Homo sapiens: one gene and its partner. The protein of the gene in region 1 purifies or fractionates together with the protein of each later gene. This does not show direct contact. Each region holds a gene or a part of one and is shown on either strand. Other genes may lie near its edges. The genes, in order: CORO2A and RMND5A.

The links.
Region 2: the proteins of CORO2A (region 1) and RMND5A purify together in Homo sapiens (affinity purification with mass spectrometry; one large-scale study listed by BioGRID and IntAct). This does not show direct contact.

What each region holds. Positions count from the first base shown.
Region 1 is NC_000009.12:98,133,351-98,137,169, reverse strand, and holds part of CORO2A (coronin-2A), read left to right. Parts: intron 1-2,214; coding exon 2,215-2,364; intron 2,365-3,819.
Region 2 is NC_000002.12:86,768,472-86,772,290, forward strand, and holds part of RMND5A (E3 ubiquitin-protein transferase RMND5A), read left to right. Parts: intron 1-1,551; coding exon 1,552-1,654; intron 1,655-3,086; coding exon 3,087-3,241; intron 3,242-3,819.

The DNA of each region.
Region 1 (3,819 bases):
TTGGATGAATGTGGACACTAAAACCATTCCAGCAGCTTCAGTCTCACTCACTTTTTTGAGCCCGTGTTCTGTACCAGGGTTATCATCCCTGCCCCAACAATGTTCAGTGTTACTTATTTACAATTCATTTTGTACCCACTTCTAAAATATGGTGGTATGGCTTAAGACAAGAACCACAGATATGCCAGGTTCAGTGGCTCACACCTGTAATCTCAGCACTTTGGGAGACTGAGGTGGGAGAATCACTTGAGGCCAGGAGTTGGAGACCAACCTAGGCAACATAGTGAGACCCTGTCTCTATTAAAAAATTAAAAAACACAGATATGATCAGATGATTAAAATAAAGATAAAAGTCATTGTCACCATTTATTGTGAGCCCACTGTATTCCTAACTGTCATCACACTTATCATTTCACAGTCTCCCCAGCAACCCCACAAGGTAGGATATTTTTCTGATGGAGAAGCTGAGGATCAGAGAGGTACAGCAATTTGCCTAATGTTACACAGCCTGTGGGAGGCAGAGCAAGACTTCAGACTGAGGCCTGTCTGATTCCACAGCCCATTCTCTTTCCAATGTGCTGTGACACATCTTTAAAGAGAAGCAGCCACAGATGGAGAAACTGAGGAAATACTAGAAATGATGGCTAAGAAGGGTTGCAGCAGCTAAGCTGCTAGTTTAGCTAAGAGCTACCTGGCAGCCAAGGCAAAATGGGCAACAGAATGTATTGCAAAACCTTCAGTTAGATCAAAAGAAGCAGACCAGTTCATCAGGAAAGGAAGGCAGAAAATTCAAAGAGGATTTGTGTCGGTTTCCATATAGCAGATGCTGAGGAACGTAAAGGACAGTGTCTGCCGAGGTGATTTCACCAAAGGGACAATCAGGTCCTGTGAGAATTGGCCCTGTCCCCAGGGAGTATAGGGCCTCTGGCAGGATATCAAATATCTGAAACTGTCCCCACTTTTGTGATACCTGCCTTTTCAGGACTGCTTTGAAGGCTCCCATCAAGATCTTTATAAATCTCTTGCTAGCCTCATTGCCTGCCACTGCCCCTTCCCCGATGCCCCAGGGCAGGACGTGACTGTTGGGGGACTGAAGAAGGAAGGGGCTTTCCTCCCCGAAGCTATGCCCACAGTGAATTTATGGGGTGTTCCTCCCTGCCTTCAGGGCCTGGAGGGCACGGTTGCTCCTCTAGCAGTGGGGAGTCTTCTCTGCTTCAGTGTTGCGGGTGGTACCTTCATCTTCCAAACATACCTCTTCAGAGTGTGTCTTCCTCCCGGGGTTCTATGCAGTGACAGCCCTCATCAGACCGAAGTATCTGGAGCCTGTCACTACTCTCGTGGGGTTGGCTTCCTGGTTTTAAATCCAAGATGACCAGGAAATAAATATTTGCTGAATTGAAAGCAAAGTCGTCTACCTGAAAAACCTGTATACCTCTAAGGGAAACAGTGCATACAATCAACTAGGGGCCAGAGAACCTTGCAGGACCAATAAGGAAGATCAAGTCAGCAGCATCCCAGGATCACCTTGTACTCCATTTGTATACCTCTGTGACAGGGAGCTTACTCTCTGCCATGGCAGCCCCCTCCATCTTCAGACAACACTACTCTGGAAGGAAGTCCCAGCACCTCTTCTCAGGCCCTCACCATGAAATACAGGCCCATGACCCCATCCAGCCCAGCCTCCTGACCTTCAGAGTTTCCTCTTGCAGGCCATCCAGGGTGCACCTCCAAAGCAAGAAGTTTGTCCCTGCCCTGCTGCAGAGACCTCGCCGGCTCCCTAGTGCCTGAGGATGCAGCCTAAACCCTTCATCCTGGCATTTGAGGCTCTACCCTGGGTCTTTGGGACAAGAAGAACACTGTACTTTGGGGATATCCTAGCTTAGGAGACAGGCCTGAAACCCAGCCACCTGCCCACCACCTCAGGCCAGCAGGATGACAAAGATCTCTCAAGGGCAGATTTGGAGGCCTAGACTCATCCCTGGTCAGCGCTGGCCCCTGCTCAGGCTGGAGGAGCTTGGGGAAGCCCCTGTCTGTCTGAGGACCCTCAGCTGCCCCTCCACTGCCCCTCAATGCCCATAGCCACTGAGTGGGAGGTGGCTATGGAGAGAGCTCCCTTGGTCCTTCTGCTGGTCACTGCCAGATCTGTGGCTTAGGCTGGTGACGGTGCCAAGGTGCCCTGGCTAATGCTGCCTTGGGCCCTGTCTCCCCTGCCAGATTAAGATCTGGAGCATCCCCAAGCAGCTGCTGACCAGGAACCTCACGGCCTACAGGAAGGAACTCGTGGGCCACGCGCGCAGAGTAGGCCTGGTGGAGTGGCACCCCACGGCCGCCAACATCCTCTTCAGTGCTGGCTATGACTACAAGGTGAGTCTGGGTATTCTTTCTCTGGGGCAGCCCCAACAAGTTCCCACAAACTGGAATACAATGGAAATGTATTCTGTCACAGTTCTGGAGACCAGAAATCGAAAATCAAGGTGTTGGGAGAGCCAGCTCCCTCCAGATGCCCTAGGGAAGAATCCTTCCATGCCTCTCCCAGCTTCTGGTGGCTCCAGGCATCCTTGGCTATAGCTGCGTCACTCCAGGCTCTGTTTCTGTCTTCACACGGCCTTCTCTCTGTGTACCTGTCTTCCTTATAGGAAGAGGAGAGCAACTATCATTGGATTTAGGGCCCACCTAATCCATTATGATCTCATCTTAACTAATTTCAGCAGCGAAGACCCCATTTCCAAATAAGGTCACATTCTGAGGTTCCAGGTGGACATGAGTTTTGGGGGGAACCCTGTTCAACTCATTATAGCCTGCCCGGAGTGGATGGGATGGCACTGCCCAGAAAATCGTTCCCCCGACCCTGCTCCACTGACAATCAAGCATGCAGGCAGTAGGCCCTGTAGATTGGGACCCACAGTACAGGAGACCTCAATTCTATTCCGACTCAGTCTCTGACCTGCACTATAGCCTGGGAAAGTGCCTTGACTTCTCTAGGCCTCAGTTTCCCAATCTGTACACAAATGGAATTGGTGGCACCATAGCTATGGCCTTTCAGTTCTTTCCTTTTGACACTATAGGGGTTTACAGAGACACCTCGGGACCCTCTGTGTTGGATAAAAGGGAGGTGGGGGGCCGGACATGGTGGCTCACACCTGTAATCCCAACAGTTTGAGAGGCTGAGGTGGGAGGATCACTTGAGCCCAAGGATTTGAGACCAGCCAACATAGTGAGACCCCATCTCTACAAAAAAATAGAAAAAATTAGCCAGGTGTGGGAAAATGCGTCAAGTAGTCCCAGCTACTCAGGAGGCTGAGGTGGGAGGATCACTTGAGCCCAGGAGGTTGATGCTACAGTGAGCCATGATCATGCCACTGTACTGCAGCCTGGGCAATCCTGTCTCAAAAATAAATAACTAAAATTGTTGTGGGGAGCACTGAGGGAACCTGGGCCCTCGCTCTTCCGATCCACAGCGCTTTCTCATCTGTTTGTATGGGGTGTCTGCAGAGCTGCTGCGTGTATTTGTGCTGGTTGTTCTATACCCAACTTCAGGGGGCACTAGTCACGTCCTAGTCTATAGGAATGGATTGCCCTGGACCTCTGCATGCACAGCCTGTGCAGCTAAACATACAGCCCTGTTGATCTGTGGGAGGTGCAAACTGCTGCTAATAACTGAAACCGCCTGGATTAGCTGGTTCCCTGGGGTCCTCCCAGCATGGATGTTTTGTTGCTCAGAGGCAGGTGGCGTTTTCCTTTCACCACTAGACAGCCTGGCCCTGGGATTCCCCCTCCTGCCACAAGCAGCTTCAGCCTGCACATCATCCTCCCACTGAG
Region 2 (3,819 bases), on another chromosome or scaffold:
TGTACATGCAGAAAGTTTACTGACATCAGCACCTGTGGGAGAATGAAAACAGCAGGATTGGGCAGAGAGGAAAGTTGGACTGTATTAGAGTGGCAACAAGGTGTCTCCCATCCGTGAGGAGCTCTGGAGCTGCTGTGGGCCCGTGGAGTTGTCCCAAATTGGGCCTATAGGGCTGGGGTTTTGTACCCTCACATGGAGCAATTGCTGGATGTGACTCTGGTCAGATGACTCTCTTCAACTGAGGACAGTCCTGAAGAGACGGACACAGCTGAGAGTTGGCTGCCAACACTTCCAGATCTGAGAAATGAGTGCTTCCACCCTGGACAGGGGTGATCTGGGGATAAGAGGAACTATGCAAAAAAAATGTTTCAGGAGCAAGCATGTCATTTGACTGATAAGCTGAGCCCATTAAATCCAGTTGTTTTGTGCAATATAAAACCTTTTTTGGCACTAATGTAAGATTATTATGAAATTCTTTATATTTTACTTTTTGAAACAGGGTCTCATTCTGTTGCCCAGGTTGGAGTGCAGTGGCACGATCGTGGCTCACTGCAGCCTCAACCTCCTGGCATCCTCCCACCTCAGCCTGCTCAGTAGCTGGGACTCTAGGCACATGCTACCATACCTGGCTAATGGCTAATTTTTATATCTTTTGTAGAGACGGGGGTCTCACTGTGTTTCCCAGGCTGGTCTCAAACTCTCAAACTTAGGTAATCCTCCCACCTTGGCCTCCCAAAGTGCTGCAATTACAGGAGTGAGCCACCACCATCTGCTGTTATTAAATTCTCTAAAAACCTTATTCTCAATTCTGTACTTCTTTCCTGTGGATTGAAAATGGTGTGTAAATCAGCACCATCTGCAGACCACATTTTGAGTATCATTGTTCTAATTAGCGTATACCTTGGAGCACATTTTGTAAGAAAAATAAGTCTGGTGGTATATGGTCTGTAAGGAAGGGAATAGGAAAGGAAGTTATGTCTTGTATATTGCTGAGTGAAGAATTTTGTGCAAGAACATCTCTTTTTCCTTCAAACTCAGATGCTAAAACTACTGTATTTGGAAGAGTGTAGTAGTTCTTAATTCCTGCTCTTCATTTGAATTAATTGGTTCTCCAAAGCTGCTTTCTTTTTTAAAATGCATGTTTTAAAACTTTATTTTTCTATTTTCTGAGGAAGTAAGCTAAAGTTAAATTACCCTAGCAGATGAGTTTTTTTTTTTTAACGTTTGCGTTCTTTAACTGCATTTACCCCCATATTGGTGAGGTTTATTTAGAAAATTTAGAGTTTTATTTTTTGTTTTGTTTTTTAACTGGGATTGGTTTTCAGTAACTTCAGGAAATATACCAGTGGGCCTGGGGAAGAAGGGGAGGGAAAACAAGTTATTTCTCTTCTAGTGGAAATGGCTGGATTTACTTTTAGCAGAACAGAAAGCTCTCACCCTGTCCAGTGGCCAGGGTCTGCAGCACATAGAGTCTGGAGAAATTGATGTCTCCTTGGACCAAGCGGCCTGACCCCTGGCCTGGCACTGACGTTTCCTCTTCTGCTCTCCCAGTTTCTCAGCAGGTTGTGTGGCGCTGCCAGCTTTAATTAACATCAAAGCCGTGATTGAACAGAGGCAGTGTACTGGAGTTTGGAACCAGAAAGATGAATTACCTGTGAGTTCCATTTTCTATTGGCTATTTACTTTTACTGCCATTAGAAGAATATGGCATCTTTAAATGTTCATCTTACCTTTTAACCAGGAAACATTGTAGCCATTTGACAGGAGTTCTTTTATGGATATATAAAAGATTAAACAATACAAATGAAGAGCCTAGTACATTTTGGGGACCCTGGAGGAGGAGTATTATAATTTTGACTTGAAGTGCCTTTGAAAGCTGGTGAAGGGAAACATCAGAAGTGGGGAGGGCTGTACATACAGTAGCAGGCAGTGTGTTCTGCAGTGCAGTTCACAGACCACTCCTGTGATTGTTTTTCTAATATAAACGCAAATTTAATTGGTTTTACTTTTGTCTTAACTATTGCTGTCGATAAGATCACGAGTTTGTGCTGGTTACATTTGCCAATAGAATAAGTATAGAGCTCTTAAAGGTCGTAACACCTGCAGTCATCAGTGGGTCTCTAGTACTGTATTTCTACTGCTCTCATGGAAAGGACCATGGTTTTAAACATCAGCACGATCACTTGCCAACTCTAGAACTTCTCTAAGCAGTAGTGTATTCATCTCTAAGACAAGCACCAGCTTTCTCTTTATGGGGCTGCTGAAGGCTAGAGATAACATAAGCATGCTTAGAATAAGACGGGATACATGGTAGGCACTCAAATTGTGGCTGCCATGGTGCAGTTATGATGTGAAGTGGCGAAGGTCATTGTATGTATGTTTCCACCAGGTCTCTGACAGGCACTGAGGCTCTGGCCTGGAATTGTCGTTCCTGTCATGATTGTGTCACAGACCCTGAAAAGCTAACATACGCATTTGTTTTTTTGCCCGTTTTATACCACACCTGTACACGGGTTTATTTGCAGTTACCTTGTTCTTCCAGCAGGTAACCCTGTCAGTTGGTTGCCCCAGCTTCTCCTCAAAGATCTTTTCTGATTAAAGGCACAGGTGCAGTCCTGGTCCTGAGTGTGGTCAGGACACAAGTAGCACTCCTGCTCTACTGCCGCTAACTTGAACAAGTGAAAAGAACTTGAGCCTTCACTTGTTTTGTGGAGGCAGGTGCCTGGCATCTGGCAGTTTCCCATTTATGTTGTAAGCATCTCTGACATGCACTAAGAGCAGACTGAAATCTGAATTCACCTAAAGACTGTGTGTCAAGCCAGTAAAGCCATTAGAGGTGGTGATCAGGTCATTGTTTGTCAGACTTGTTTTTACACTTTGTCAGCTTTCTTGAAAATAATCTTGAAGGCTAATTTAACACTTTGAATCACTAAGACTGTCCATCTGAGTTAGAAGAGTGCTATAGAAAGTTACATTCAGGTGAATAGATCTGATCAATGTTCTTTGCTGCACAGTGTATATTACCATGTGGATGGTTTTGTGAAATATGACTTCAGCTTTTTTACTTTTTTTTTTTTTTTTAACAGATTGAAGTGGACCTTGGTAAAAAGTGCTGGTATCACTCTATATTTGCCTGCCCCATTCTTCGTCAGCAAACAACAGATAACAATCCACCCATGAAATTGGTCTGTGGTCATATTATATCAAGAGATGCCCTGAATAAAATGTTTAATGGTAGCAAGTAAGTGTCTGACTTTTAAAAAATGTTAGCAAATAAATTTTGTTTTGGAACTTGGTAGGAGGATAAGAAGTGATGAGGATTAAAAAAATGTAGCTAGATTTAGAACTAAATAAATTTCTTAACTATTCATTTGGCAAAGTTGGTGGTATCTGATTTGAGTATTTTTAATGTGTCTATGGATTTGGTGATTAGATTTATAAGCATGTCTTTAACTTAACTTTTGGGGTAGGTGATAGATTTTCCCCTTTTTTATACAAATGGTCGCATACTAAAAAATGTTCTGTACTTTGCTGTTTTCACTTAGTGATGTATTTTGGAGATCTTTTTCTGTGCTGCAGAAACAGCCCTCATTATTTTTTTGTTAAAGCTGCAGTATATTCTACTGTATAGAAATATGATTGGGTAGCCAGTTCCCTATTGATGAACATTTGTTTCTCTAAACAGTGCTAAGTGAAGGCCAGGTGTGGTGGCTTATGCCTGTAATCCCAGCACTGTGGGAGGCCGAGGCAGGCGGATCACGAGGTCAGGAGATTGAGACCATCCTGGCTAACACGGTGAAATCCCATCTCTACTAAAAA